Linked DNA regions of Homo sapiens: all the other regions are linked to region 3. The links come from fine-mapping of genetic effects on gene expression. A gene starts in region 3. Each other region holds a variant in brackets. All regions are shown on one strand. Distances are from middle to middle. Region 1 overlaps GLIPR2 (GLI pathogenesis related 2). Region 2 overlaps LOC124902150 (a long non-coding RNA gene). Region 3 holds the start of GLIPR2 (GLI pathogenesis related 2).

The links.
Region 1: its variant is fine-mapped to the expression of GLIPR2 in left ventricle (GTEx, PIP above 0.99).
Region 2: its variant is fine-mapped to the expression of GLIPR2 in nasal epithelium (TOPMed, PIP 0.92).

Annotation. Positions count from the first base shown.
Region 1 is chr9:36,160,144-36,170,693 of GRCh38, reverse strand. GLIPR2 (GLI pathogenesis related 2) reads right to left here. Exons shown (of 5, transcript NM_022343.4): 5 at 6,788-8,332. The coding sequence ends at 8,172. CCIN (calicin) reads right to left here and starts at 1,306. Exons shown (of 1, transcript NM_005893.3): 1 at 1-1,306. The coding sequence starts at 1,191. RefSeq lists a silencer at 3,891-4,100 and enhancers at 3,700-4,200, 4,291-4,400, 7,782-8,362, 8,363-8,943. The variant G/A (reference allele first, on the strand shown) is at 5,310.
Region 2 is chr9:36,277,193-36,287,742 of GRCh38, reverse strand. It overlaps LOC124902150 (a long non-coding RNA gene), which reads right to left. Exons shown (of 3, transcript XR_007061473.1): 3 at 2,604-3,035. Among named protein-coding and RNA genes, the nearest start is that of GNE, 24 kb to the right of the region's middle. The variant G/A (reference allele first, on the strand shown) is at 6,137.
Region 3 is chr9:36,131,033-36,141,582 of GRCh38, reverse strand. It overlaps GLIPR2 (GLI pathogenesis related 2), which reads right to left and starts at 4,850. Exons shown (of 5, transcript NM_022343.4): 1 at 4,792-4,850. The coding sequence starts at 4,804. RefSeq lists silencers at 4,549-4,598, 4,629-5,198.

The sequences.
Region 1 (10,550 bases), 29 kb before region 3:
ATCATAGCGATAGATGTTGGAGACATACCGCCTTGGGGCAATGCTCCCGCCCACTGAGTACACTGTCCCCCCACAGGTCACCATGGTGTGGAAGACAAGCCCGATGGGCAGGTCAGGCAACTTGGTCCAGGAGTTGTCATCCATGTCATACCGCCAGGCTGTCTTCAGCCCTGAAATCTGCTCAGTGGTGCCACCAGAGATGTAGATGTAGCGACCAGCAGAGGTGGCACTAAGTGCTGCTGCCCGATAGGGCATGTCTGAGAGCTTCATCCACAGGTTCTCCTGGATGATATAAGCAAACACTCCATCATTGAACTGGCCGTGGGCCTTCTGGCCACCGAGGATGACCACGGAATCAAGCAGGGCCCCTTTCCGCTGGTAGACCAGCAGGCTGCATGGCCGCTCCTGCTTGCGGTCCATCAGGACACTCTCAATCAGGGTTGTATGGGATGAGGTGTTCTCCATGCCCACCAGCTTGTTGCTGGCAAACACCAGCGTCTTATTGGAGACAGCATTGAGATTGATGTAATTGAAGAACTTCTTGAAATACTTCTCCCGATCCTCCTTCCGGAAGTACACCCAATTGATGAGTGCGCTGAGCGCCTGGTCTTCATTGAGCACGTGAAGGTTTTCATCACGGAGCAGGCGGCCAAAGATAACAGGTGGACAGCGCATGAAGTGCATGGAGCCCTCAGGACTGGCCCAGTAGTGGAAGTTGTCCCGAATGCCAGAGTAAGCTACGTCTGATACCTCTTTGAGCTCAAACAGCTCAGCCAAGAAGAGGTAGCGCAAGCAGTTGGCACGGCAGATGGACTTAATAAGGAAGTCGTTACAGTGAACTCGAAGGCGTGGTGTGTTGAAATACTGAGCCCCACGAAGCAGCTCCTCCACATTTTGCTCGGAGATCACCACCTTGCCGCTATAGAAGTAGTCCAGAAGCTGGTCCACTGTGACCGGGCTCAGGTAACTGGTGTCAATGGTGATGAAAAGCTCATCAGCGGTCTTCATGTCATTGCTGGAGATGAGGCTCCTCACCAGTGGGGAGACAGCAGCCAGCACATTGCGATGTGCAAAGAAGACGTGGTTGTCCACACTCAGGGCCATGTCCCAGTACTCTTTGCGTTTCCTCTGTCTGTTCAGGTTCTGCAGCACGAAGCTATTGTAGTTTTTCTCCGTGAATTCCAATTTCATGGTGCCTCTTGTCGGCTGAAACAGATCAGCAGCAGGTACTGGAGAGCAGACTTTCTCAGGCCTGTGGGATCAGATTGATGGTTGTTTGCAGAGCGGTTGACCAGGGAGAAGAGAGGGTGGAAGAGAGGATGATGTCATAGAGTGGATCAGGTCATCACAATGCAGGCCTCCCTGAGGCCTGTCTCAGAGGCACTGGGCCTTCCTCCCCTCTGATCTCTCCAACCTGCCAAGGCCACATACCCTAGCAGGACCTAAAGCCCTGGGCCCAGAGCTCAGGAGGAACCTCAGGGATGGGCGGCAACTTCCACCTGGGACTTTCAAACCGTAGTTAAAGGCTTCTGGAATATCAGAGCCAGTCTGGGTGGGGCAGTGGGGAGCAGTTTGTGTAGGAGAGATAAGGGGAGGTGGGGAAAGGGAAGAGATTATTAGACCTAGAAGAATCCTCCCATTTTGAGGGAAACTGAGGCCCAGAGAAGAGAAGGCACTTGCCCAAAATCACATAGCCAGTTGGAAGCCGAGCAGGGCCCAGAACCTGGGGAACCTCGCATTCTTCCTACCCTTCTGGAAGCTCCTGACTACCCAGCTTTCCCCAGTCTCTGACTCTCAACTCTCCAAGCACTCTTCCTGCCAAGGCTCCTGGGCATCAGAGAAAAGCTCTGTCCTTTGGCTTCTGACCTTGGTGGCCACAGACATCATTCTCCTTCAAAATGGAGAGGTGGAGGCCACTCCCTGGAGCAGGGATGAAGGAGTTAACCACAAACGGGGGCATGGGAGGGTCTTTAAAGACCGGATGATTTCAGCTCCTTGGCAAACTAGAATGTTCCCCCAACATTTCCAAGTGTCCAGTTGGAAAATGTTGGGGGCTTCAGTGGGTCAGCTTTCTCCATCAAAGGTGGACTTGGGCGAGTTGATCAGACTTTCTAAACCTCAGTTTCCTCCTCTGTGAGATGGAACTAATATTTGATAGTAGTACCCACTTCAAAGATTATTATGAGTTTATTTTTATTTTTATTTTTATTTTTTTGAGACAGAGTCTCGCTCTGTCACCCAGGTTGGAGTGCAGTGGTGCGATCTCAGCTTGAAACAGCCTTTGCAAAATTATGACTGAGACAGTGAAAGAGATCAACTTAACTGACTCCATCTTGCTTCTAACCTCCAAGCTGTCCTTGCTCATTCCTTGGCAAAGGCTGAACTAACTTTGGGAGAAACCTATATGTATAGTTTACGGTTTAAACAAAGACAGCCCTTTCCCAAAGCAGACCTCCTTCTTGCCTGGGGACTAGATTGCCTTTGTAGGACTAACATTAGCCACAAGATTAGAAATTATGGTTTAGGAGTCATGTAGCTGGAGGCTACAAGATTCTAACCCTCCCTAAACTGCTCCTAAGACCAGTGCTTGAGATTTCTCTTTTTTTTTTTTTTTAGACAGTTTCGCTCTTCTTGCCCAGGCCGGAGTGCAATGGTGCGTTCTCGGCTCACCACAACCTCCAACTCCCGGGTTCAAGCGTTTCTCCTGCCTCAGCCTCCTGAGTAGCTGGGATTACAGGCATGCACCACCACACCCGGCTAATTCTGTATTTTTAGTAGAGATGGGGTTTCTCTATGTTGGTCAGGCTGGTCTCAAACTCCCGACCTCAGGTGATCCACCTGCCTCAGCCTTCCAAAGTGCTGGGATTACAGGCGTGAGCCCCCGTGCCCGGCCGGTGCTTGAGATATTTTGCAGAACCTGCACTTGATGGATCAGCTGGCACCACTCAGATCAATAAACTGGCTCATCTGATCTTGTGGCCCCCAGACCCAAGAACTGACTCAGCCCAAGAAGACAGCTCCAACTCCCATGATTTCATCTCTGACCAATCAGCAGCACTCCTGGCTCACTGGCTTCCCCCTACCCACCAAGTTATCTTTAAAAACTCTGCTCCCCCAATGCTCCGGGAGACTGATTTGAGTAATAATAAAACTCCAGGCCGGGCGCGGTGCCTCATGCTTGTAATCCTAGCACTTTGGGATGCCAAGGTGGGCGGATCACCTGAGGTCATGGTTTCGAGACCAGCCTGGCCAACATGGCAAAACCCTGTCTCTACTAAAAATACAAAAATTAGTTGGGAGTGGTGGTGCATGCCTGTAATGCCTGTAATCCCAGCTACTGGGGAGACTGAGGCAGCAGAATCGCTCGAACCCGGGAGGCGGAGGTTGCAGCGTGCCCAGATCGCACCATTGCACTCCAGCCTGGGCGACAGAGTGAGACTCCGTCTCAAAAAAAAAAACCCCAAAAAACAAAAACAAAACCCTCCAGTCTCCCGCACGGCTGGCTCTGTGTGAATTACTCTTTCTCTGTTGCAATTCCCCTGTCTTTTATTACCCAACCCCCCAACCCCCCTCACCCCCCACCCCCAGTAGCTGGGATTACAGGCGCCTGTCAACATGCCCGGCAAAGTTTTGTATTTTTAGTAGAGACGAGGTTTCACCATGTTGGCCAAGCTGGTCTCGAACCCCTGACCTCAGGTGATCCGCCCGCCTCGGCCTCTCAAAGGGTTGGGATTATAGGCGTGAACCACCGTGCCCGGCCTATTATTAGAGTTTAAATGAGAAAAGGACTGGAGAGTAGTGGGCTTGTCATAAAGCTCAATCAATGCTAGCTGCCGTTTTCTTACTCATATTACACCAGTTCGCCCAGCGCCGGCGTTCGTGGCTGCTCCCTTCATAAAAACTTGTGGTCATCGTGGTTCTGGTTTCGCGGTAGCTGAGGAGGCTGTGGCTACCTCGCGTCTCTTCTGGGCCCGCCGCCCGAACCCAGTCCAGCCACGCGGTGGCGCTGGAGGGTCGTCCCCGCCCCCGAGCGCACCGCCTCTGCGCCGGGCACCACCCCAACCCCTCTCCAGGATGGAAAAGAGGCGCGGGGCGTCCCCTTTTTCGCTTTGCCTCCACGCGCCACCGTGCAAAGGCGGCAGCGCCGTGCCGTCCGCCGCGACCCTGGAATTCAAACGGCAGGATCGGGGGCTCTCAGCCTTGCAGGACTCCTTAGATTTCCCCAGACACACACCTGTCCCCACTTTACAGATGGGGACGCTGAGCCCCCAACGGAGGCGCGCCCTCCAGAGGCCAGAAGACTGTCTCCGACTCCCAGTAACAGCTGGGGGGGTTTCCTGACCCCTGCGAGTCCTTTGCGGGGAGAGAGGAGGGTGCCCGCAGACTCGGACAGATTCCTGGCTGGCGTGGGGCTCCCGGAGTCCTGTGGGGCGTCTGTGGAACTGCTGTTCGTGCAAGAAGGGGATAAGCGCCAGCTGGAGCGCCGCGGGCGGGAGGGAGGGGGAGGCAAAAGAGCCCAGTAGCCCCACCCGGACCAGCCTTTGGGAAGAGACCCCAGAGAAGGGCCTGGACTTGCATCTCGCCCAGGCATTCGCGAGAAGGTACAGAAAGGACTTACCTCTCTGATCTCCTCCAATCTGGGCCCAAGCCCCACTCTAGACCCTCGGGCCGTCCTCAGTGCCCCTCCCGGGAAATTTCAGTATCAGCCTCGGGAATCTGAGCCGTTCCAGCTCTTTCCCTCCCTGGCTTAGTCATATTCTCATTCTCATTGTCTCCCTCCCTCGTCCGTTCATTCCAGACTAGTCTTTTCCTTATTTTTAGATTTGGTAACTTGAAAATTATTTGAAAATACGCCCCTTCCCTTTTTTTTTTTTTTTTTTCTGAGATGGAGTCTCACTCTGTCCCCCAGGCTGGAGTGCAGTGGCCCGATCTCGGCTCACTGCAACCTCCGCCTCCCGGGTTCAAGTAATTTCTTGCCTCAGCCTCCCAAGTAGCTGGGATTACAGGCGCGCGCAGCCACGCCCGGCTAACTTTTGTATTTTTAGTAGAGACGGGGTTTCACCGTCTTGGCCAGGCTGGTCTTGAACTCCTGACCTCGTGATCCACCCACCTTGGCCTCCTAATGTATGGGATTACAGGCGTTAGCCACCGCACCTGGCCAAAAATACCCTTTTAAACTGAATTTGTCCACCTTCCCGCCCGAATGCGATAGAGAGACTCGGTCTCTTGGGATATGATACGTGCACAAAGTGAAGAACTTCTGTTTTCCCCATTGGAAGTAGACTTCAATTTCAGCCTCCTCCTCCGGA[G/A]ACCAGTCTCCCTGGGAGAATAATTAAGCCCTTAATGCCTCTTCAGCCCTTACCTTCTGCAAAGCAGCAGCAGCAACTTGGGTGAATGATGAGGCCTCTTGGTGCTGATGCCAGACACCTTCTGGCTCCCATGGACATGCAGGCTGGCAGATCTCGCCTCCTGGGACATCTTCACCCGGGAGCAGGGGGTGGGTGGGTCAGGCCCTGCTGCTTCACACCTCCTTTGTCCTCTCCCCTGCCCTCCCACCTGCAAGCTTCAGCCTTGGGAGCATTTCAGTGGAGGAGGTGGCCATGCCTGTTTGTTTTTGTTTCAGCTCCCAGAGCACCAAGGCAGGAATGAGCTCTCTCATCAGACACTTCCAGCATTAAGTTGGGTCTGGAGGTGTCATGGGGACCTGAGAGAACTGATAGACCTAACTCCATGTGACAGACCTCGTACAGGTGGATAAATTGAAGCCCAGGGAGAGGAAGAGGCTTGCACCAGAGAGCTGTCTTCTTCCTCTGCCCTCTGGCTACAAAGGAGAGCCGCGGTTTGGTTTGTCCTTGTTCTTTTTGGATTGTGAGGCTTGCCATCTTCAAGAAATCCTTAAAAGTGAGATTAGTGCCCACCTGCTCAGCCAGCTTTGCTGTCTGGCATTTCTTTAGCCCAGGAAAGCTCCCCGGTCCAGCTTTTTCCTCAATCCAGCCAACTGTGGAAACAAACTCCAGCCCATAGAGGCTGGCTGCATGCTGGCTTCCACCACCTGGTTGTGTGTGTGTGTGTGTGTGTGTGTATGGGGGTGGGGGGGGTGACCCGAGGAGCCACCAAGAAGTTCATTGGCTGGCAGCTTGCCAGGTGGGGCCAGAAAAGGATCTCAGCAGGGTCTTTTCACCCACCGTCAGCTTCCTACCAGGCGCCACATTTTCTGTTCATGGTGTCTCCCGTTAGGAAGAGATGGTATGATTCTAATCTTTGGGGACTATCGGCTGGTATATCAGTTTGTTTGGAAGCCCTGAGGAAAATGAGGGGCATATTTTAAAGATATACAGATTTGGGCTGGAGCTAGAAAACTCAGGAACATTCAAGAATATTCTCAGCATCTCCTCCTCTTTTGTACCTCCAATAACTGGCTTCTTCGCTTCTGTGTATTTCCTATTCATAACTTGGCTTGCAAGTAGCTTTGGTTTGCCATGGCCCTAATTCCAATTTATGGCATCCTTATTTTTTTCAGTTCCACTGGTAAATTCTCTCCATAATTCTTAGCTGAAATTCCCAGTCCATGGCCAGCCTGGTGATTGGCTGCCGTTGGATCCAGTGTCCACTCTAGTCCAATCAGCTCTGTGCTGGTGGGTCAGATGGCTTAAAACTTGGCCACTTAAGCAACACAGTCCACGGGGAATGGGTTGCAGGTATTCTGGGGTTAATCGAGAGAGGGATTCAGAGTCACGGATTGTCTCAGCCATGGAGAATGAAGTATGAATCACATTGGAGGAGGTTATTACACAAAGAAAAAGATTTTATTGTCTTCTTAGTCAATATCCCTGGTGAAATTAGAGGCATAGCTTGAGACTGGTGACAGTGCAACACAGACCTTCAGGAGCTGCTTTGAGGACTGGCCTGCCCAGATGCCTGCTGTTAAGCCAGCAGCCCCCTCACTCCGGCCCCTGCCATCTTGACAGATGGAGCTGCCATGGTTTCAGGGACACTCAGCAGGGCATCTGGGTTGGTCCCTCCCACATGGACCTTGTAAAGTTGCTATTCAGGGGAACCTGGTATCGTTTCAGGCAAAACACAGAACCATATTAGCACTTCTAAGCCCCCTGCCCCGGCCGCCTCCCCGGAACATTTGGGCTTGTCGCACATTCCAGGAGGGAGCAGGAGCACAGCTGCAGCCACAGCTGCCAGGAACAGGCCTGGGCTCCCGCCCTGTGTGGGGGGAGGGCAGAGGCTGAGGGCTTCCTCTGGGGGCCCTGAGTAAGCTCACCCTCACCCCACCTCTCTGACTTCATCCATCCAAGGCCGCTTGGCCAAGAGCCCAGGCAGGGTGAGGGGCTGTCTCCCAGACCAGGCCTGGGCTGCCTAGCAGAGGTGGGGGAGGGGGAGCTTCAGGCCTAGCCCAACTCTCCAGAAACCAGGGGTAGCCTGCTGAGCTCTGAAATGCCAGAAGTTTAAGAAAAGAGGGAAGGGGGCAAGAGGTGGTGGTGGTAGTGGTACTTTGCTATTTAAAGGTAGAAGAATGCAAGGAAGTAAAACTTTTTTTCTCCATTTGTTGTTTGGCGACCCCATTGGAGAATTCCAGGAGGCATGCAGGATGACATCATGTTTTACAACTGAGAAATCTCAGTAATTCTGTAAAATGGAGTCCCTGCCTGCTCCATGTTCCTGATGGAAGCTGCTTTGTATTTATGTGCTTAAAGCTGTATTTTATGTCACATTTAAATGAGGGTTTAATAATCTTAATTATCTACCAAAAGTAGATTACGACGCATGAAGATCACATAAAATGAACTTCACTTCTCAGCATCACAAACATTTGGAATACAAAAAGTCCAGGGATGGATATTAGAAGTAAGAAAAGTACAAAAGAGGTTTGCTTAGAAATAACAAAAAATTAAAAAAAAAAAACGGATCCCCCCTCCCCCCAATCCAAATAATCGTGGTCTAGGTAACCATCGGGGTAAATGCTTCCTTTGCTCACTCCTGTAATAAGAATGAGCGCACACAGAACTGTATGTCCAAGTGTGTGTGCCAGAGACGCTCACATGCATCACACACACAAGCACATACACCCACAGGGACAGACGCACAGCCAGGTTGTGGTGGTTCTAGGCACTTCATATCCACGTTCTTAAGTCTGCCACCTTCCCATTACATTTAACAAGTTACTTCTTCGGCGGCAGGACGTTTTCTTCGAAGAAGCCCTCATTGACAACATTCCCCGCTGGGAAGTATCTGGCCACCACAAAGGAGGACCCGTCACTTGCGGACGCCTTCCCCACGCCCATCTTCTTGGTGTTCTTCCATACCATGGCCGTGAAGTGTCCTGTAGGGGAACGGGCAGAGGGAGAGGGACACGGCTGAATTAGCAGAGCCTGAAGAAGGATGTGGCAGGGGATTGTTGAACCCCTGTACCATCTTGCCAGGCTCAGGTCAGCATGGTCTTCACAGACCCCCTGCAGGGGAAGGAGAGAGAAAACACTCTGACTGCCTGACTTCTTTTTTTTTCCCCCAAGATGGAGTCTCGCTCTGTAACCCAGGCTGGAGTGCAGTGGCATGATCTTGGCTCACTGCAACCTCCACCTCCTGGGTTCGAGTGATTCTCCTGCCTCAGCCTCCCAAGTAGCTGGGACTACAGGTGCATGCCACCACGCCCAGCTAATTTTTTTGTATTTTTAGTAGAGATGAGGTTTCACCATGGTCTCGAACTCCTGACCTCAGGCGATCCACCTGCCTCAGTCTCCCAGTGCTGGGATTACAGGTGTGAGCCACTGTGCCTGGCCAGACTGCCTGAATTCTAAAGCAGGTCCTTTCTATCAGCCACACAGACCTTACCCACCTCACCACCTTCCAACAGTCTCCCAGAGATCACGACAAAGCCCAGTGGCCCCAACAATTAGGATGCCACTCTACTGCCTACTGCCTGTGTCTAACCCTGTCCCCAAGCTGTAATCTTGAAGCTCTCCAGTGATCCCCTTTTGTCTTCATCTTACTTGACACCTGAGGAACACTTCCTACTCTTCTCCTTTTCAAGGCACCCCTCCCCCTTTTGGTTTCTAGGATGCCACAGTCTCTTGCCATTCCTCCTGTCTCACTGCCTCCTCTTCCGCCTCCTCGCCCTCACTTATAGATATTGAAGGACCCACACTTCCCAGGGCTCAATCCTGGGCCCTTTTTTTTTTTTCCTCTAAGCTCTCTTTAGGGAATTTCATCTTTCCCTGGCTCCCAAATTTATTTCTCCAGCTCAAATCACTGCTCTGTGTTCCAGACATAACTAATTACTGGACATTTCCACATGGATGACTCACAGGCATCTCAGATTTAACCTTTCCAAACCTCACTCCCAGTTTTTGTCCCCCTAGATTTATTCCTCTCCCAGTCCTCCCATCTCCATCAATGGTACCTCCATGTGCACACTGCCAGGGGGAGTCTGCATCCCTCCTCTTCTTCCTTTTCCCCACAACAACCTAGTATTCAGTCTTGAAGAATCCAACTCTAAAATGCATCTCAGGTCCACCCACTCCCAAACCCTTGGTCCCAATTGCAAACTTTTCTCACATGGACCATTGCAATAGCCTCCTGACTGGTTCTATGGCATCCACCTTGGCCCCTCAAAATCATTTTCTTTTTCTTTTCTTTTTTTTTTGAGACGAGTCTCACCCTGTCACCCAGGCTGGAGTGCAGTGTCATGATCTCAGCTCACTGCAACCTCCACCTCCTTGGTTTAAGTGATCCTCCCACCTCAGCCTCCCAAGTAGCTGGGACTACAGGTGTGTGCCACCATGCCCAGCTATTTTTTTGTATTTTTAGTAGAGACAAGGTTTCACCATGTTGTCCAGGCTGGTGTTGAACTCCTGACCTCAGGTGCTCTGCCCACCTCGGCCTCCCAAACTGCTGAGATTACAGGCGTGAGCCTCATTTTCTACTTAGTATTCAGAGTGACCATTCTGAGATATAAATCATATCTATTTACTTCCCTGCTTAACAATCCTTCACTCGCTCCCCAATGCACTTAGAATGAAAGTGAATCCTTTGGTGCAGTGGCCTCCTCTCCATTCCTTGAACACACCAGAGTATGTCCCACCTCAGAACCCTTGCACATTTTTTTTCTTCTGTTTTCCTTCTTTCTTCTTCTCTTTTTTCTTCTCTCCCTCCTTCCCTTCCTCTTCTCTTTTTCTCTTCTCTTCCCTTCTTTCTGACAGGATCTCTGTCACCTAGGCTGGATGGAGTTCAGTGGCATGATCATAGCTTACTTCAGCTTCCACCTCCAGGGCTCAGGAGACCCTCCCACCTCAGCTTCCTGAGTAGCTGGGACCACAGGCACATGCCGCCACTGCCGAATCATTTTTCAAAAAGTATTTGTAAGGCCGGGCGCCGTGACTCACGCCTGCAATGCCAGCACTTCGAGAGGCCGAGGTGGGCGGATCATCTTAGGTTGGGAGTTGGAGACCAGCCTGACCAACATGGAGAAACCCCATCTCTACTAAAAATACAAAATTAGCCGGGCATGGTGGTGCATGCCTGTAATCCCAGCTAATCGGGAA
Region 2 (10,550 bases), 150 kb before region 3:
ATGACAAATTATTATTTCATTAAAGCCACAGACCTAAGGCCTAGTCTTATTTGTATAAGAAAAGATAAGGAACAATGATGTTACATTTTCTAATCTAGAGTAGCTAAAAGTTTACACAAATGTTAACCCAGTACTAGAAAATGTGAGGATAGGTCTGATTCCATATCTTGCATCTTAAAAAAGTCATACTGTAAAATCTACTTCAATAATCAAGATGTTTAATCAGTATAGATTTGTGCGTATTTATCCCCGTGTTATGCTCTGTGAGTCCAAGAATAACTCATTCTATTGTGCTTTGCTTTATCACACCTTGCAGATACTGCACGTTTTACAAATGGAAGGTTTATGGCAACCCTGCCTGGAGCAAGGCTATCGGTGCCATTTTTCCAACAGCATGTGCTCACTTCACGTCTGTGTCACATTTTCATCATTCTTACAGCATTTCAAACTTTTTCATTATTATAATTATGACTGTGATTATTATTTCGAGACAGGGTCTCACTCTGTTGCCCAGGCTGGAGTGCCGTGGTGCGACCACTGTAGCCTCAACCTCCTGGGCTCAAACAATCCGCCCACCTCAGCCCCTTGAGTAGCTGGGACTACAGACGCATGCCACTAGTTTTTTTAATTTTTTTGTAGAGACAGGGTCTCATTATGTTGTCCAGGCTGGTCTTGAGTTCCTGGACTCAAGTGATCCTCCAACCTCAGCCTCCCGAAGTGCTAGGTTTACAGGCATGATCAGTGACCTTTGATGTTACTATTGTAATTGTTTTGAGGTGCCACAAATCGCACCCATATAAGACAGCAAACTTAATCAATAAGTGTGCATGTTCCGATTGCTCAACTGACCAACCGGCTATTTCCCCATCTCTCTCCCCTCTTCCGTGGGCCTCCCTACTCCCTGAGACACAATAACATTGAAGTTAAGCCAACTAATAATCCTACAATAGCCTCTAAGTGTTCAAGTGAAAGGAAGAGTCGCACGACTCTCACTTTAAATCAAAAGCTACAAATGATTAAGCTTAGTGAGGAACGCATGTCGAAAGCTGAGATCGGCCAAAAGCTATGCCTCTTGTGCCAGTTAGTCAAGTTGTGAATGCAGGGGAAAAGCTGTTGAAGGATGTTGAAAGTGTCACTCCAGGGAACATACAAATGATAAGAAAGCAAAACATCCTTATTGCTGATACGGGGAAAGTTTGAGTAGTCTGGATAGAAGATCAAACCAGCCACAACATTCCCTTTAGCCAAAGCCTAATCCAGACCAAGGCCATAACTCTTCAATTCTGTGGAGGCTGAGAGAGGTGAGGTTATCTATAGAAGAAAACTTGGAAGCTAACAGAGGCTGGTTCATCAGATTGAAGGAAAGAAGCCAGCTCTATAACATAAAAGTGCAAGGTGAAGCAGCAAGTGCTGATGTAGAAGCTGCAGCAAGTTATCCAGAAGATCTGGCTAAGATCACTGACGAAGGCGGCTGCGCTAAACAACAGATTTTCAATGTAGATAAAACAAACAGCTTTCTCTTGGATGAAGAGGCCATGTAGGACCCTCATAGCTAGAGAGGAGAAGTCAGTGCCTGGCTTCAAACTTTAAAGAACAGGCTGGCTCTCTTATTAGGAGCTAATGCAGCTGGTGGCTTTAAGTTGAAGTCAGTGCTCATTTGCCATTCTGAAAATTCTAGGACCTTTAAGAGTTATGCTAAAGCTGGCCAGGCGTGGTGGCTCACGCCTGTAATCCCAGCATTTTGGGAGGCCGAAGGGGGTGGATCACCTGAGGTCAGGAGTTTGAGACCAGCCCGGCCAACATGGCAAAACCCCATCTTTACTAAAAATACAAAAATTAGCCAGGTGTGGTGGTGCATGCCTGTGATCCCAGCTACTCAGGAGGCTGAGACAGGAGTATCACTTGAACCCAGGAGGCACCCGGGAGGCAGAGGTTGCCGTAAGCTGGGATCACACCACTGCACTCCAGCCTAGGCAACACAGCGAGACTCTGTCTCAAAAAAAAAAAAAACAAAAAAAAAACATGCTAAAGCTACTCTTCTTGTGCTCTATAAATGGAATAGCAAAGCCTGGATGACAGCATATCCGGTAATTAGCATGGTTTACTGAATATTTTAAGCCCACTATTGAGATTTACTGCCCAGAAAAAGAAGAAAAGATTCCTTTCAGAAAATTACCACTCACTGACAGTTCACCTGGTCACCCAAGGGCTCTGATGAAGATGTGCAAGGAGATGAATGTTGTTTTCATGCCTGCTAACACAACATCCAGTCCATAGCCCATGGATCAAAGAGTAATTTTGACTTTCAAGTCCTATTACTTAAGAAATACATTGGCCGGGCATGGGGGCTCACGCCTGCAATCCCAGCACTTTGGGAGGCTGAGGCGGGCGGATCATGAGGTCAAGAGATCGAGACCATCCTGGCTAACATGGTGAAACACTGTCTCTACTAAAAATACAAAAATTAGCTGGGCTGGGTGGCACACGCCTGTAGTCCCAGATACTTGGGAGGCTGAGGCAGGAGAATTGCTTGAACCTGGGAGGTGGAGGTTGCAGTGAGCCAAGATTGCGCTACTGTACTCCAGCCTGGGTGACAGAGCAAGACTCCATCTCAAAAAAAAAAAAAAAAAAAAAGAAAGAAATACATTTTGTTGGGCCATAGCTGCCATTGATCTTGATTCCTCTAATGGATCTGGGCAAAGTAAATTGAAAGACTTTGGAAAGAATTAATCATTCTAGATGCCATTAAGAACATTCATGATTCATAGGAGAAGGTCAAAATAGCCACATTAACAGGATTTGGGAGAAGTTGATTCCAACGCTCATAGTTGACTTTAGGGGGCTCAAGACTTCTGTGGAGGAAGTAACTGCAGATGTGGTAGACACAGCAAGAGAAGTACAGTTAGAAGTGGAGCCTGAAGATGTGACTGAATTGCTGCCATCTCACAATCAAACTTGAATGAAGGAGGTGTTGTTTCTTCTGAATGAGCCAAGAACATCTTTTCTTGATGTGGATTCTACTCCTGATGAAGACGCTGTGGACATTGTTGAAATGACAACAGAGGATTTAGAATATTACATAACGCAGTTCATAAAGCAGTGGCATGGTTTGATAGGATTGATTCCAGTATTGAAGGAAGTTCTACTGTGGGTAAATGCTATCAAATAGTATCTCATGCTACAGAGAAATCTTTGGTGAAAGAGTCAATCGATGTAGCAAACTTCATCATTGTTTTATTTCAGGAAATTGCCACAGGCATCCTGATCTTCAGCAGCCACCACCCTGATCAGTCACCAGCCACAACACTGAGGCAAGACCCTCCAGCAGCAAAAAGATGACTCACTGAAGGCTCAGGTGATCATTAGCATTTTTCAGTAATAAAGTATTTTACAAGACCAGTGCTCTAACCCATTAGCTATGGAGCCGTAATAAAGTATTTTAAAATTCCAGCGGGCATGGTGGCTCACGCCTATAATCCCAGCACTTTGGGAGGCTGAGGAGGGTGGATCACCTGAGGTCAACAGTTCGAGACCAGCCTGGCCAACATGGAGAAACCCCGTCTCTACTAAAAATACAAAAATTAGCCGGGAGTGGTAGCGGGGGCCTGTAATCCCAGCTATTCAGGAGGCTGGGGCAGGAGAATCGCTTGAACTCATGAGACAGAGGTTGCAGTGAGCTGAGATCACGCTACTGTACTCCAGCCTGGGTGACACGGTGAAACTCTGTCTCAAAATAAATAAATAAATAAATAAATAAATAAATAAATAAGGTATATATGTTGTGCTGGGTGCAATGGTGGATGCCTGTAATCCTAGCACTTTGGGAGGTCAAGGCAGGTGGACTGTTTGAGCCCAGGAGTTTGAGACCAGCCTGAGCAACATAGTGAGACCCCATCTCTAAAAAAATACAAAAAATTAGCTGGGTGTGGTGACTCATGCCTGTACTCCCAGCTACTCAGGAGGCTGAGGTGGGAGGTTCGCTTGAGCCCTGAAGGCAGAGGTTGCAGTGAGCCGAGATTGTGCCACTGCACTCCAGCCTCGGCAACAGAGTGAGCCCTGTCATTAAGAAAAAAAAAAAAAAAAAAAAAACGGCCGGGCGCAGTGGCTCATGCCTGTAATCCCAGCACTTTGGGAGGCCGAGATGGGCGGATCACGAGATCAGGAGATCGAGACCATCCTGATGAACACGGTGAAACCCCATCTCTACTAAAAATACAAAAAATTAGCCGGGCGTGGCAAGCGCCTGTAGTCCCAGCTACTCGGGAGGCTGAGGCAGGAGAATGGCGTGAACCCAGGAGGCGGAGCTTGCAGTGAGCCGAGATCGCGCCACTGCACTCCAGCCTGGGAGACAAAGCGAGACTCCGTCTCAAAAACAACAACGACAACAACAACATCAAGGCTGAACTGACCTTTAGCACCAAAGAGACCACTCTGTCTCTCCTCTCTCAGGTTTAACTTTCTCATAAAAATCTTACCCCCAGCCCATTTTAACTTAACTCACAATATATGCCTGGCACTATGCAAGACTCTGGAAATGTGAAGAGGAACAAAATAGCTATGGCTGACCCCTAGTTGGCCACAGTTTATAGTCTACCAGAAATAGTTATCAAAGTGTGGTCTGGGGACCTCGGAGGAGGGAGGGAGAGTCTTGGAGCCCTTTTGGGGCTGTGTGTGAAGGCCAAACTACATTCCTGTATTCATAATAATATAGCCAGTTCTCTTTCTTCATGGTAGTTATGTTCTATAAAGTTGCTGTGAATGCTGAATAAGTGAATACTGAATTATTACTCTTAAGGGAAATACAGGGTTAGGTTCCTAAAGCCTCTGGTCATTTTTGTCAACCAACCAATACGTAACTTTGTTTTCTGTGTATTTCTATTTAAAGATACCTTAACATGAGAGGATGGTGGCATGTATGCCATCTCCCATTCATGTTCCTACTTCCCTGGAAGGCTGAGATGATTTCTTATGCCTTCCAGGTTCTGATGAGATTAGGGCTTTATGCTGTGGCCCCCTCAGAATAGAGCTGCAGAATACTAAAGCCCTTAGCTGCAGCTAAGAATGAGCTTCTCGAAAGGGCGTCCCATGGCTTGCCTTGCAGTTATCTGACCCCTCTTGTTTTGGTGTTGTCCTTTTGGTGAGTGGGACAAAGACCATAGGAGCTGGCACCTTGAGCCACTCTTCCTTTTGCTGTTTACGTAAGTGCCAAACAGTCTGATCTAAAAGTAGCCTGTTGTACCTTTCCGGTTCAACCAGGCAGGCCTTGTCCTTGCCCTCGTGTGTGCTCAACAAATAGGAAAGACCAAGAGGCAGGTATTAGATCAGCGTATTGCCTAGGCATTCTGCTCATTACTAGCCCATCTGACCCCTACATCTGCAGCCTGAAACCCAGTGATGAGAAAATTCTCCACGTTACAACCCTCATAAATGGCATTAACCTCTTCTAGAAGAAGATGGATTGCAAATGATTTTTAGATGTTCTTGTGGATAATACTTGCAGTATCTACACATTTAACGTTTGTTCATATTACCATCATTGCAGAACACAGGGGTAAAAAAGCTGCAAGTTGGAGAAGGAGTCTTTGCTTCTCCAAAGGAGACTTCTCTCCTCTTTTGCTCTCTCAGGAAAGAGGGGACTCTAAAGTAGTTCACTTAGGGGTGGACCATGCAACATGGCTAAAAATGAGGCCTGCCCAGAGACCAAGGCTTTTCACAACTTCCTCTGTCATTCTGTGAAACTTAGTCTTAAACAGATCAGGGTTTTGCCTGGCTAAAAACTGTATTCTCTACTTTATCTGAAGTGAAATGTATTTCTCCTGTTCCAGCCAGTGACCAATCCAACCATCTTATCCTGGAAAAAAAAAATAAATTGTAAGCATCCTCAAGATGCATTCACTTTCGAAGTTTTATTATTTACTGGCTCACAAAGTAATAATGTACACTGTAAAAAAGTGTGCAAGGCCGGGCTTGTGGTGGCTCACGCCTGTAATCCCAGCTCTTTGGGAGGCCAAGGTGGGTGGATCACGAGGTCAGGAGATCGAGACCATCCTGGCTAACATGGTGAAACCCTGACTCTACTAAAAATACAAAAATTAACAGGGCATGGTGGTGCGCACCTGTAGTCCCAGCTACTCAG[G/A]AGGCTGAGGCAGGAGAATCACTTGAACCTGAGAAGCAGAGGTTACAGTGAGCCAAGACTGCGCCACTGCACTCCAGCCTGGCAACAGAGCGAGACTCCGTCTCAGAAAAACAAAACAAAAAAAAGTGCAAAATACAAAAAGTAGAAATAAGCACACAGAAAAATCAGTCTCGCATCTACAAGGAGGCAACAACTGTTAATATTCTAAGATACTTCCCTTAAGTCCTTTATGTATTTTTTTCCTTTACACAAGCACAACTCTATATGCGATCTTGTGCTTAGCCTTTTGATTCACATCATTTCATATTTCTCCATGATTTCACATTGTAAATATCATGTTGACTAACTGCATAGCGATTTGTGGATGCATCAAAATTTACCTAACTCTTCCTCAAACATGTGGCACGTAGGTTAAGAAGCTTGTCACTCTTGACACAAGCTATCTGAATGAGTGACAGACGGTATGGTGTGGTTAAAATAGCAGTGACTTTGCAGTCACATTTTTTGACCCATGTTTGAGATCTGGGTCAGCCACTTGTAACTTGTTTGTGTGACTTTAGGCAAACCACTTAATTTCTCTGAGCCTCAATTCCTTTCCTGGTCTATAAAATAGGACAGGTAACTTCCACTTCACTGAGTTGTTCTAAGTCAGGAGTGGACAGACTATAGCTCAGCGGCCAATTCCAGGCCACTATCTGTTTTTGTAAAAAAAAGTCTCAAAGGCACACAGCCATCTCCATTCCTTTATACATCGTGTATGGCTGCTTTTGTACCACAAGGGCAGAGCAGAGAAGTTGTGACAGAGACATGGCCTGCAAAAATATCTGGCCCTCTATAGAAAAGATTTGATGACCCCTATTCTAAATAATGGACATGAAAGTAATTCTGTAGACAGAAAAAAGCCTAACCAAATGTGAAAGATTATTCATGGCAGAGCCTACAGTAGGTGCTCATTAAACATTTGTTCTAAGGATGTGTAGCTCAATGGAGAATTGTATTCACCAGAATCCCTGCAGAATGAGTCTCTGTTTAGGAGAAGCATGAAGGAGGAGGTGATTCAGAAGAGCATCAGGATGGGGTGAGAACCCTGTGCAAAGGGACAGAAAAGGAGATTTTTAACACCTGGGAAACTACAGGGACAAGGAGAACTGTGTGAAGATGTTTAGAAGCTTTCTGGATGATGCTCTGAATAAAACTCCTGTGCAGCCCAATTAAAGTAAACATCTACAGTAAACATCAACATGGTTCTTTAAGACTCAGAGCAAGACCAGTGTTTATTTAACTTCAACTCAATGTAGGGATTGGATCACAAGGAGTATAGCTTTCAAATAGATTATCAAATGGACAGAATAAAAATAACAGCTCAGGCTGGGCATGGCAGCTCACGCCTGTAATCCCAGCTCTTTGGGAGGTCAGGGCAGGAGGATCACTTGAGCCCAGGAGTTTGAGACCAACCTGGGCAACACAGTGAGACTTCATCTTTGTATTTTAAAATAAGCTAATTAATTAAATAAAAATAAAAATGTCTCTGGGCATGGTGGCTCACGCCTCTAATCCCAGCACTTTGGGAGGTTGAGGCAGGCGCATCACTTGAGGTCAGGAGTTTAAGACCAGCCTGGCCAACATGGTGAAACTCCATCTCTACTAAAAATACAAAAATTAGCTGGGCACGGTGGCATGTGCCTGTAGTCCCAGCTACTCAGGAGGCTGAGGCAGGAGAATCACTTGAACCCAGGAGGTGGAGGTTGCGATGAACCAAGATAACGCGTCACTGCCCTCCAGCCTGGGCGACAGAGTAAGACCTCCGTTTAAAAAAAAAAAAATCAGCCCTAATATTGAATTTACAATACAAAATTTTAATTATATGTGCTCCCATAAAGCACAATGAAGAACATCTTATTTATTAAAAAGAGGATAATATTTCACTGAGCAGGCTGGGCACAGTGGCTCATGCCTGTAATCTCAGCCCTTTGGGAGGCCAAGGAGGGCAGATTGCTTGAGCCCAGGAGCCTGAGCAACATGGCAAAACCTCATCTCTACAAAAAATACAAAAATTAACCAGGCGTGATGGTGGGCTCCTTTAATCCCGGTTACTCAGGAGGCTGAAGCACGAGAATTACTTGAAACCGGGAGGTGGAGGTTGCTGAGCCGAGATCGTGCCATTGCGCTCCAGCCTGGGCGACAGAGCAAGACTCTGTCTTAAAAAAACAAAAAACAGGCTGAGCAAGGTGGCTCATGCCTGTAATCCCAGCACTTTGGGAGGCTGAAGTGGGAGGATCACCTGAGGTCAGGAGTTCGAGACCAGCCTGGCCAACATGGCGAAACCCTGTCTCTACTAAAAATACGAAAATTAGCTGGGGTGGTGGTGCATGCCTGTGATCCCAGCTACTTGGGAGGCTGAGGCTGGAGAATCACTTGAACCTGGGAGGCGGGGGTTGCAGTGAGCTGAGATCGTGCCACTCTACTCCAGCCTGGGTGACAGAGTGATACTCTGTCTCAAAAAAATAAACAAAAATAAATAAATAAAAACAAAAAACAATTTTAAAAAATGGTAGTAAGGTCAGACTTTTGATCATATATTTTTTTGAGTTCCCTAGTGCTATTCTGCCAATTTTTTCTATTGGACAGCTTTTTCTCTCCCATTGCTGATTTGTAAGCTCTCAAGTGAGGTCCTATAGGCAGTCTATGGACAGTATATTAAATACTGGATATTTTTGTTTATTTATTTCTTGAGACAGTGTCTTGCCGTGTGGCCCAGGCTGCAGAGCAGTGGCAAGATCACAGTTCATTGCAGCCTCAAACTCCTGGACTCAAAGCAGTCCTCCCAGTTCAGCCTCCTGAGCAGCTGGGACTATAAGCATGTGCCACCAAGACCAGCTAATTAAAAAAAAATTCTTTTTGTAGAGATGGGTATCTAAATATGTTGCCCAGGCTGGTCTTGAATTCCTGGCCTCAAGTGATCCACCTGCCTTGGCCTTCCAAAGTGCTGGGACTATAGGTGTGAGCCACCATGCCTGGATATTTTTATTGGGAGGAGGGGATGTCTGTCAAGATTAACCAAGAGGAAGTGAAAAAGCATAACAATCATCCATGAAAACTGGCCAAGTGGTGCACACTTTTAGTTCCAGCTACTTGGGAGGCTGAGGCAGGAGGATCACTTGAGTCCAGGTCTAGCCTGGACAATACAGCAAGACCCCACCTCTAAAAAATACTATCCATGGATCCACTCCTTTATCTGCCTGAAAAAAGAAGGTCCTGCCCTGGCACACTTAGAAGTGTTCTCTCCTGCCTCTCTATAAAGACGGAGGAAGCGGAGAAGACAACTTTTTTTTTTTTTTTTAACAGAGTTTTTAGTTAAGAGAGAAAAAAGAGCAGACTGGATGTGAGGAAACAGATGGGAAGAAAGAGCAAAGAGCAGAGATTTAACAAAAAATGTTGTTGAGGGTTATGTATACCTTTAACATATTTGAAAAATATAAGGGCCAGGAGTGGTGGCTCATGCCTGTAATCCCAGCACTCTGGGAGGCCAAGGCGGGTGGATCACCTGAGGTCAACAGTTCAAGACCAGCCTGGCCAACATGGCAAAACCCTGTCTCTACTAAAAAATACAAAAACTAGCTGGGCGTGGTGGCACACACCTGTAATCCCAGCTACTCGGGAGGCTGAGGCTGGAGAATTGCTTGAACCCTGGAGGCAAAGGTTGTAGTGAGCTGAGATTGTGCCACTGCACTCCAGCCTGGGCGACAAGAGCAAGACACTGTCTCAAGAAGAAAAAAAAATAAAGAAAAATATAAGAAAAAAATGAGTTATTTTAGCATGGTGGCTCACACCTGTATTCCCAGCACTTTGGGAGGCCGAGGTGATAGGATTGCTTGAACCCAGGAGTTCGAGATGGGCCTGAGCAACATAGTGAGACCCAGTCTCTTTCAAATAAAATAAAATAGACTTCAGACCATGGTTGACTTCAAAATCTATAAACATACAATGGTTAACTAAGAATTTCTGTGCCTGTGGGGGATACCTTTTAGTATAGTTTCTCTTGAGTGGAATGTGAAGTTGTGTGGTAGATAAGGCTAGGCTGTTCCAGTGGTCAAATGAGCATTTACCAGTGAAATGGAGAGTTGTTTGATAAGTAGATCATTGGTCAGTATCCCTTGCTACCAATCTGGCTGTGAGAGTCCCTAAGCACCAAAAGCAAGACACGAGCAAGACTCCATCTCAAAAAAAAAAAAAAAAAAAAAAAAAAAAAAAAGAAAAGAATAGAAAAAAAAAGTTTAGAATTAGAATTACGTATGTGTGAAAACAATGTGAAAAAAGACTTTTGTAGATTTTTGAACTACAAAAAAGACTTTTGTAGATTTTAAGAAACTCAGAAGAAAACTTTTTCTAGTGGAAAGTAAAATTATTGGATGGA
Region 3 (10,550 bases):
TCTTCCTCCTCTCCTGAGGCCTCCCTGAGCCCAGCCTGACTCACTCTGCCCTCTCCAGGCTCCTCATGAAAGAGCCAGTGACTGTCAGGGCCCAGGGCAGGAATTGTGAACAGGCCCCCTGCCCCCTTGGCAAAAGGCTGGAAAGCAGCCCGGTTCTGCCTTCGGGGCAAAGCTGGTTTTGCTTGTTTATCAGGAAGAAAGAATAAAAAGTTGGCAGTTTAAGGAAAAAAAAAAAAAGAATGAATTTCAGCTGGGTAACTCCTGCTCTTTAAGCCGGATCCGGGAATTTCAACAGCCAAATCCCCGCACTGCCTTTTACTGGCCATGCGATCTTGGACACGTTGCTTCAACACTCTGTGCCTCCTTTCCCCATACATAAAATGAGAACAGCAGTATCTACCTCACAAGGCTGCAGTGAGAGTTAAATGAATTAATCTATGTAAATGCTTTCGAACTGTTCTGGAATATAATGAACAGGTATTAAATGCCAACTGTAATGATTATTATTACCATCGGACAGGGACAGAAACCTTTTGGGCTTTGGCTTTAGAAGAACCTGTTCCTGCTCCTTCCGGGTCAGGTCCCCTCCTGCCCTGCCTTTACATTGACGTTTGATGGCCTTTTTCAGTCCCTCTGAGCTTGGATATTTGCTAAGTGAATGAGTGAGTGAACAAATGAATGAGGTTCTCACTCCAGCACAGCGAAGGCGGGACAGGATTCCTCTCTTCATTACAGATGAGGAAACTGGGGTGTTTGGATGGTGGGGGGCATGCGCATTGTCCAAGACCACACAGAGCCCACATTAGAGCCGGGTGTAAGAATGCCCCTCCCTTTACCCCCTCCCCTGCTCCAAATCTCCCACACTTTCCACTTTACGAATTGCTTCCTCTTTTCCAAATGGCAAGAATGATGTCTATGACGAGTTGCTCAATTGCTTACGGGAACAAGGCACCCCCTTCCCCCAAGCATCAGCCTCCCCTAGGCTGTCCCTCTCCATAGACAGTGGTTGTAATTGAAGGGGAGGCAGCCATTTTCCAGCCCTGCCTGCCTACTGTCACTCAGGCACATCCCTACCCCTCTGGGCCCCAGGTTTCCCATCTGTGTGTGAAGGAAGGATGACATCTGTGGTTTTCATAATATCTTCAAAGCAGGGAAACCCTTCCTTTGAAGGAAACCTTCAATAAAAGCAACAGATGAAAATGAAACTGCTGGGGTTGGCCTGGCCCACACAGCTTCTCCCTGCAGAGGCCTGAGGGTCCCACTCAGTAGAAAACTCCTGGGCTCGTTGGTCCCTAAAGGCCTCTCTGCTCTGATTTCCTCTGGTGCTAGGTGGATGGAGGGACACTAATATTCTTAGAGCTGATGAGAGGGTGTGTGGAAGTCCCCAGTGGCCTAGAGTTCAGGCTGGCAGGGAGCAGGGTGTCAGGGCAAGTGGTCAGTGTGGGAGAGAGGACAGGACACAGTAGGGGAGTCAGAGAGCTGAGTTCAAATTCACTGGCTTGCTTACCTGTCAGTGTGTGAGCTTGGGCAAGGTACTCAACCTCTGTAAATCTATAGAATGAGTTGATAATAACTGCCTGGCAGTGCTGTCACTAATATGGTAACATAGAAAATACTGAGCTCTTTGCCTGGCATGCAGTTGAAGATTAATCATTGGTGTCACCAGTATTAGGGACAGGAGGCTTCCACTGAGCCCAAGGTCATTGCCTTTCTCTTCCCCACCACACTTGCTGCACACCAAGTCCCAGCAGAGAAACCACAGCTGGGAGCAGGATCTGGGAGTCTTCGATCACTAGGCCAAGCGTCTTCTGGAATTTCAACTGTGCCAGCTGTGTGATGATTTTACAATAACGCCTGTTATGCCAAGCAGCTCTGGGGTGTATCTGAGGTTAAAGATGAAAAAGAGACTGGCTCCTGTGCAGTGAGGAGGAAACTGAGGCCCAGAAGGGGCAGGGACAGATTCCTTATGATGGTCTTTACAGAAGCACACAGAGCCCCTGTGAGTGCCACCTGCCCTATAGACACAGACAGCAGCCCTGGGCTGACGGCCTGGAACTTCAAGGTTGAGCTTGAGTTGAAGGACCACTGGGCACGGGGTCACCCAGAAAAGTCATTTTCTTTTAGGGACCCTAGGAGAGCCAGATATTAATACTATTCTGGGGGCTCTCGGTTTTCCGGTTGGGGTGGGGGAGTTAAATTAAATGCACGTGACTATGAGGGAGAAAGGCCTGGGTCAGAATTCTGCAAGGTCCCTGGGTGTGTGTGTGTGTGTTAGGGGTGGAGGTGGCCTCTGACTCAACCAGTTCTAACCTGCTTTCTGCCACTGGCCCCCTCCTCTCCTGAGTGAGAAGTAATCTTCCTCTGAAACCTGCCCAACCCTGCATCTCCAGGCATGGAAGCCATCATCCCATCGTGCAGGCCTCTGACCCTTCCCTCTGCTTCACAATAAGTTGTCACCAAGTCTGCCCAAGGCCACCATCTCACAAATCCATCCCATCCTCCTCTCCAGCCTCCACCCTGCCCTGGATGCCTCTGTCATCTCCTGTTTGTGACTGCGGCAGTCTCCCCTATCCTCCCTCCACCTTCTCTCCATCCATCCGATCTACCCTACACCCTGGCAACGCTCTAGTTACGCTGCTTTCAGATCAGTGCCTTTCCATGGCACCCCAGGTTCCATAAGATGAAGTCTAAATTCCCAAGACCCTCTGGGATTTGACCATCTCCTCCAGGAACCCTCGTCGGCTCCCACGCGGAGCAGTCTCCTCACCTTGAGCTCCCACCACCCTTCACCAGCACCTGTCTTGTGGTTTGGATCATTTTCCACCTCTTACTCGAGCCAGATAGTGCCTGTCTATCCCCTACATAGCTTTATGTATTCCTTTCACAATCCAAGTGGATGCACGCCCCGGCACTGGGTCCACAGCTTGATACAGAGCTGCTAGACAGTGCAAGGGAGGGAAGGAGGAAGGGGCGAACAGACAGAAGAATGGGCACACAGCTGAATATGAGCAGTTCTGGAAAACCGTGCCTTACATAAGATGCCAGAAACAACTGATTAAGGTGTAGCCTAGGCTGGGCGCACCTGTAATCCTAGCACTTTGGGAGGCTGAGGCAGGCAGATCATGAGGTCAGGAGTTCAAGACCAGCCTGACCAACACGGTGAAACCCTGTCTCTACTAAAAATACAAAAGTTAGCTGGGCGTGGTGGCGCACACCTGTAATCCCAGCTACTCAGGAGGCTGAGGCAGGAGAATGACTTGAACCTGGGAGGCGGAGGTTGCAGTGAGCCGAGATCGCACCACTGCACTCCAGCCTGGGCAACAGAAGGAGACCACGTCTCAGAAAGAAAGAAAAAAAAAAAGTAGCCTAAGGGAATTTGTGGATTTTCTCCACAAATTTCTACAGAGAAAGGAGTTGATTTCCCAAGCAGATATCTCGAAAGACTCGCTCTCATCTGCCATACTTTTGCTCCATCACCATCTGTCATCCTGTTAACTAAATGGCAACCCATTATATCACCTTTCCATACTGTGAAGAACCCCAGGGCTCATACGGCCACCCTCATTGTACAGACAGGGAGGAACAGAGGGAAGGAGGCTTGCTCAGTATCACACAGCCAGTGATTGGCTGGGCCAGGGCTGAAAGCCAGACCTGCCTCTACAGCCTAGGAAGGCTGGTTAGGACCAAGGCCAGGGAAAGCCACTTGCGCCCAGCGCTGGCATCTCCTGAGTCCAGATCTTGGAGGACAGATCCTAGAAGGGACCTAGCCTTACTCATCTGAAGTGGACAATCCGGATGAAGCAGGACTTCTGAATCCTGTTCAACAGCTGTTCTCTAAGAGCCTCCTGTGAGGCAGAAGCAATGCTGAGATAAACACGGCCCCTGGCAGCCAGGGGTGAGGACCCGGTGGGAAACAGGTCTATGGCTGAACTCTTGTCCCCGGCCCACTACAGGAAGGGCTGCAGCGAGGAAAACACCAGGTTGGGCGCTCCCTCCCGGGGGGAATCACAGATGGGCTCCAGCCCAGGAGCTGAGCCTAGAGGGATGGGATTTTCAGGCTGAGAGTTGGGGTGGTGAAGGCCCGGCAAGGAAACCTAGGGGAAGGGACCTGTGCACCAGCTTCTGGACAGCTCTAGTGTAGGGCGGAGGTAAGGGCTAGGGACCCACTCCCAGGGGCCCGAAGGCAGGACTGGAGTGTGTCCTTTCACTCTGAGGACAATGGTGAGGAAGGTGTTAGGGAGCGACAGGAGGAGAGCTGCGCTGCAGAAAGTTCATCCCGACAGCCACAGTAGAGAGGATGGGGTGCCCCAGGAGAAAGGGAGCCAGACCGAGCCTAGCACAGGGGGAGCCCGGCACGGCGCGGGCGCTCAGGAGAGAAGGAACAACAAATGGATGAGGGGGATGCTCAGGGCTGTCCTCGGGACAGCCGAGCGGGGCAAACTGCTTCGCAGCGAGAGCTGTTGTCACACTTTGGTGACTTTTCCAACTCTAAGTCTGGCCTCCTGAAACAAAGCAGAAGCCACGCCTTGGCGGGCCGCGGCGCGCAGCCCCTCAGGGTCGGGAAGCCCAACTTGGCGCGATCCCCGGCTCTCCGGCGGGGGCCTCCCTCGGGCTCGCCTTCCCCCCGGGTTCCCCGGAAACCGCGCCGGGGCGCTCCGCCCGCGCGCCCTCCACCCGCACCCCGGGCTCCCGCACTCCCCAGGACCTGGCTTGCGGCGGACGAGGGAGACGGCGAGGTCCGGGAGCGCGGGGTTCCGAACCATTCCGCAGCGGGCGAGCCCGCGGGCTCACCTGACTTGCCCATGGCCGGCTCCGCGCGCTCCTCGCTCCCCGCGGCTGCGCTGCACTGCGCTCGCCCGGCCCAGCGCCGCCCCAGAGCCCAGGACCGGGCTGATGCCGCGGCCCCTCCTCCGGCGCCGCCCGGCCCCCGCCTTATAAGGAGCGACAGCTGAGGGCGGAGGCGCCCGGGGCCACCCCGTGGGCCTCCCGGAGAGCTCACCCCTGGGAAGCAGCTCCGCGACTGCCGAGGGCTCCCCGGATGCGGCCGCGGGGCTCAAGCCTCCCGGACCCCACACCGAGCTGTCCCTTCCCGGGGCGCGTGGGGAAGCCCGCGCCTGCTGGGCCCCGGGTGGCTGCTCTGCGCCGACGCGCGGCGAGGACAGAGGGGCGCGCGGTCGCGGCACGAGGGGCGTTCCGGCCGGCGCCACCAGGGGACGGCCTCTCCCTGCCGCGGCCTGACACGACACACGCAGCCCCGGGGTGTGCCCCCATCTCCGGTGACTCTGGGCTCCGGAGGGCGGCTGGTCCGGGGAGGGGGATGCTCCTCTCCTAGGACACGCCCTCTAATGCCAGTCGGGGTGGAAGCGCCGCCGCCTCTGACCCGTCCACTCGCCCCTCATTGCCTCCCAGACCAAGCCAATTCCCACCCCTGCAGTCTGGCCCCAGACCTGTCTCCCCAACGCCCCACCTTTTCCCCATACTCCAGTCAAACTAGATGTCTTGTCATTCCCCAAACATGTTCTGGGATTTCCCACCTCCCTGCCTTTCCTCAGGCGGTCCCTCCTCCGGGAGTGCTGGCCCTGGAGCCACCATTCCAGTGCTGCCCATCCCTCGGGGTCGGCCGGTCTTTCCAACTGCCAGGTGCCCTGACCCTGGGAGCAGCACACACCAGGTACTGGGGAGATGTGGTCCCACCCATGGCCCCTGCCCCGTGGGAGAAGTGCACTTACTTGACCGCACAGCCCTAGTCACCTGTGCCAGACTTCCCGCAAGCGCTCCTTTCTGGGGAAGGGGCTCAGTACACCCCAAATGAAGGAAGCGAATTTTAAGGCTTTTCAATGAATGGGCACTGAAGTGAGCTGACCCACTGATGATAAGGCTAGAATTTGTAATACCAACGGCTTACGAATGTCCCGCAGGGCGATGGCTGGGCACTGTGCTCTCTATTCCTTTCCCCATGTCAGGCAAATACACCTACTGTATTTTAGTACCGTCATGAGTAATGACATTTCAGTCAATGCCAGACCACATATACTGTGGTAGTCCCAAGAGATTATGATACCATATTTTTACTATGTTTCTATGTTTACATCTGTTTATATATGCAAATTTTTACCATTGTGTTACAGTCACCTAAAGTATTCAGTATGGGTCAAATTGGTGCCCAACCCTGATTCAAAAGGGACTCCTGGGGCTGGGTGCGGTGGCTCACGCCTGTAATCCCAGCACTTCAGGAGGCGGAGGTGGGAGGATTCTTGAGCCCAGGAGTTCAAGACCAGCCTGAGGCAATATAGTGAGACCCCCCCTCCCATCTCTATAAACAAACAAAAGGGACTCCTGGTGCTAGGTGGGGATCTAACCCCCTCTATTCAATTCCCTCTCCCATTTTGTCAACAAATGCCTATTGAAATAATCAAATAAACACAGTAGGAAGAATTCCATGTTGCCCCTAGAATCTCTAGAAGGCTGTATTTCACATAACAAAAACTTTAAGGCCGTGGGTGGAGACAGTGAGGCTCAGCGGGCTGCTCACTGCACGCAGAGGGAAGCCCATCTGGGACCACCATGTTTCACTGACACCTTGAGGTCTGAGGACTGGAGGTGAGAGGGGCTGAGAGTGGATGCATTTCCTAACTTAGAAATTCATAACCTTAGCAGCAGGCACATGAAGGAACAGGGTGCTGAATGGAGGGTGTTAGGGCAGTGCCAAAGTCAACCCCGACCAAGGGCCGTGGGCTAGTTGGAGAGGGAGTCGCTGTCCAGGCATCAGACACAAGAGACAAATGGCCACAAAGGTCAGACACAAAGAAGAGTGATTGACCCAATGTATTGTCTTTGTGTGTGTGTGTGTGTGTGTGTGTGTGTGTGTTTTGAGACAGTCTCGCTCTGTCTCATAGGCTGGGGTGCAGTGGTGCGATCTCGGATCACTGCAACCTCCACCTCCTGGGTTCAAGCAATTCTCCTGCCTCAGCCTCCCAAGTAGCTGGGATTACAGGCATGTGCCGCCATGCCCAGCTAATTTTTTGTATTTTTAGTAGAGACGGGGTTTCACCATATTGGCCAGGCTGGCCTTGAACTCAAGTGATCTACCCACGTTGGCCTCCCAAAGTGTTGGGATTAGAGGCGTGAGCCACCCCGCCCAGCCACCACTACTCCATCTTTTAACTTTTAACCGTTTCTTTATATTTAAAATAGACATCTTATAGTTGACAAGATGCAGTTAGGTCTTTTTTTTAAATCCTGTCTGACAATATCTGCCTTTTAATTTGTATTAATACCATTCATACTTGATAACATTATTTTCTTTTTTCTTTTTGAGATGCAGTCTCCCTCTGTTGCCCAGGCTGGAGTACAGTGTCTTGATCTTGGCTCACTGCAACCTCCACCTCCCAGGTTCAAGCAATTCTGCTGCCTCAGTGCCCTCCCCTTGACCCCAGTAGCTGGGATTACAGGCATGTGCCACCACATCCAGCTAATTTTTGTGTTTTTAGTAGAAACGGGATTTCTCCATGTTGGCCAGGCTGGTCTCAAACTCCCGATCTCAGGTGATCCACCCGCCTCGGCCTCCCAAAATGCTGGGTTTACAGGCGTGAGCCAACACTCCCGGCCCGATAACATTATTTTCAAATTTGTATGGAATAAATACAAAAATTGACCAAATGTTAGGTCTTAAACTAAGCTGTAATAAATTCCTGAAAGTAGAAAAAATTCAGTCACATTTTCTGAGCACAATGTAATAAAACTAAAACTAAATAACAAAAGATTGGCTAAAAATTTTTGAATCATCTAGAAAATAAAAAAAATCCCTCTTACAGCACTGAAAGGCAAAATCAAAACACGTTCAGATATAAATGACAATCTGAATACTCTGCAGGCTGGGCGTGGTGGCTCACACCTGTAATCCTAGCACTTTGGGAAGCCAGGGCAGGTGAATCGCTTGAGAACAGGAGTTTGAGACGAGCCTGGACAATATAGAGGGACCCTGTGTCTCACAAAATTAAAAAAAAAAAATTACAAAAATTAGCCAGGTGTGGTGGCACATGCCTGTGGTCCCAGCTCCTCAGGAGGCTGAGATGGAGAATCATTTGATCCTGGGAGGTCGAGGCTGTAGTGAGCTATGATTGTGCCACTGTACTTTAGCCTGGGCAACAGAGCAAGCCCCTGTCTAAAAAAAAAAACAAAAAACAACAACAACAAAAACTTGGTAATTGTTAAGAGTGTGGAACATGGGTTTGAAGTCCTGTGGCCCAAGTTCAGTTTCTAGCTCTGCTGCCCACAGAGACTGTGGCTCTGGTTTGGGTGCTCGGGTTTCTCCATGTCTGTTTTCTCATCTGTAAAATGAAGATAATAATACTTATCTTAGATAATTTTTTTAGCGATGGTGTCTTGCTATGGTGCCCAGGCTGGAGTACAGTAGCTCACTGCAGCCTTGAATTCCTGGGTCAGATGATTGTCCTGCCTCTGCCTCCCAAGTAGCTGGGACTACAGGTGAGTGCCACTGCACCTGGCTTAGAGGATTTTTTTTTTTTTTTAAGATTGAGATCACACTCAAGGAAACTCACATCTACTTCAGTTTCTTTGGGATAAATTCCTAATCTTTCTGGGCTCCTCTCCACACCTTTGAGTTGCCTCCTCTAGACTCGGGTGCTTGGACAGGTGCATCCATCTGGCCGCGCCTGAGTCACAAGCCTTCACACAAGCACCCAGAAAGAGAACACAGTGCTAGGCGCGGTGGCTCACGCCTGTAATCCCAACACTTTGGGAAGCTGAGGTGGGCAGATCACCTGAGGTAAGGAGTTCGAGACAAACCTGACCAATGTGGTGAAACCCCGTCACTACTAAAAATACAAAAAATTAGCCTGGCATGGTGGCGCGAGACTGTAGTCTCAGCTACTCAGGAGGCTGAGGCACGAGAATCGCTTGAACCCAGGAGGTGGAGGTTGCAGTGAGCCGAGATTGTGCCACCGCACTCCAGCCTGGGCAACAGAGCGAGACTCTGTCTCAAAAAAATTAATAAAATAAATAAACAAAGAGAACCAAGGAAATTTCCCACCCCCTCTCCAAACCCCACAAGCTGCCAGAGTTAGAAAGGGTCTTTTACATTCAAATAGAGACTCTACCACATGCTGAAAAGCCAAAAACCAGCGAATGTCAATCGTATCTCCATTCTTAAAAGGAGAAATTTTGTTTCTGTCCTAAATCTGTTTTCCCAGAACATGCTGCACCCCATGACTCAGCCCCTTCTCAGTGTCTAAGCTCTTACATCATTATGAATTATTCCCCAAACTGGTTTATGAAACAAACTATGCTTTAAGCCCTCCAGTCTTTGGCTCTTGATTGGCAGAGGTTTTCGGAATAAAAAATTCACTGTAATAGCCAGTGGGTGAAAGGCCATGACAACTAGAAAAGTGGGGGAAAGAAAACTGGCAGAAAGTCTCCTTATTTTATCCTGTTATGCTTTCTTTATTATTGTGGTTAGAAAATACATGGGATGCAGCCAAAGATGTACTTAGAGGAAAGTATACAGCATGAGAAATATGAACATCGGTTGTGAGTTAGACCTGGGCTCAAAATATCTTGCTCTGCTTTTCTTTTTCTTTTTTTGAGATGGAGTCTTGCTCTGTTGCCCAGGCTGAACTGCAGTGGTATGATCTCGGCTCACTGCAGCCTCTGCCTCCTGGGTTCAAGAAATTCTCCTGGCTCAGCCTCCTGAGTAGCTGGAATTACAGGCGTGCGCCACCATGCCCGGCTGATTTTTGTATTTTTAGTAGAGACAGAGTTTCACCATGTTGGCCAGGCTGGTCTCAAACTCCTGACCTCATGATCTGCCCTCCTCGGCCTCCCAAAGTGCTGGGATTATAGGCATAAGCCACTGCACCCGGCCTTGTATACCCTTCCTAAGAGGGGAATATTTGACTCTGTGCCCAGAGGGTTGAAACCTGTAAGGAAAGAAGATTCACCATCAAAGGACTGAGAAAAAAAGTACAGACAGTAACTTCTTATAACTTAATACTTCCTTGACTTGAAAATAAAGGGATTTTAATGAAAAACTCCCTCTTATTGGCCAGGCAGGATGGCTCATGCCTGTAATCCCAGTGCCATAGGAGTCCAAGGTGGGAGGATAGCTTGGGGCCAGGAATTCAAGAGCAGCCTGGACAACATGGCAAGACCCTATCTCTACAAAAAATTAAAAATAAATAGCTGGGTGTGGCGCACACACCTGTAGTCCCTGCTACTCAGGAGGCTGAAGTGGGAGGATGGCTTGAGCCCAGGAGCTCAAGGCTGCAGTGAATTCTGATCATGCTACTGTACTCCAGCCTGGGTAATGGAGTGAGACCCTGTCTTTAAAAAAAAAAAAAAAAATTAAGTCTCTCTCTTTTTTTTTTTTTTAATTTGAGATGGAGTCTTGCTTTGTTACCCAGGCTGGAGTGTGATGGCATGATTTTGGTTCACTGCAACCTCCGCCTACCTGGTTCAAGCTATTCTCCTGTCTCAGCCTCCTAGGTAGCTGGGATTACAGGTGCTTGCCACCATCCCAGGCTAATTTTTGT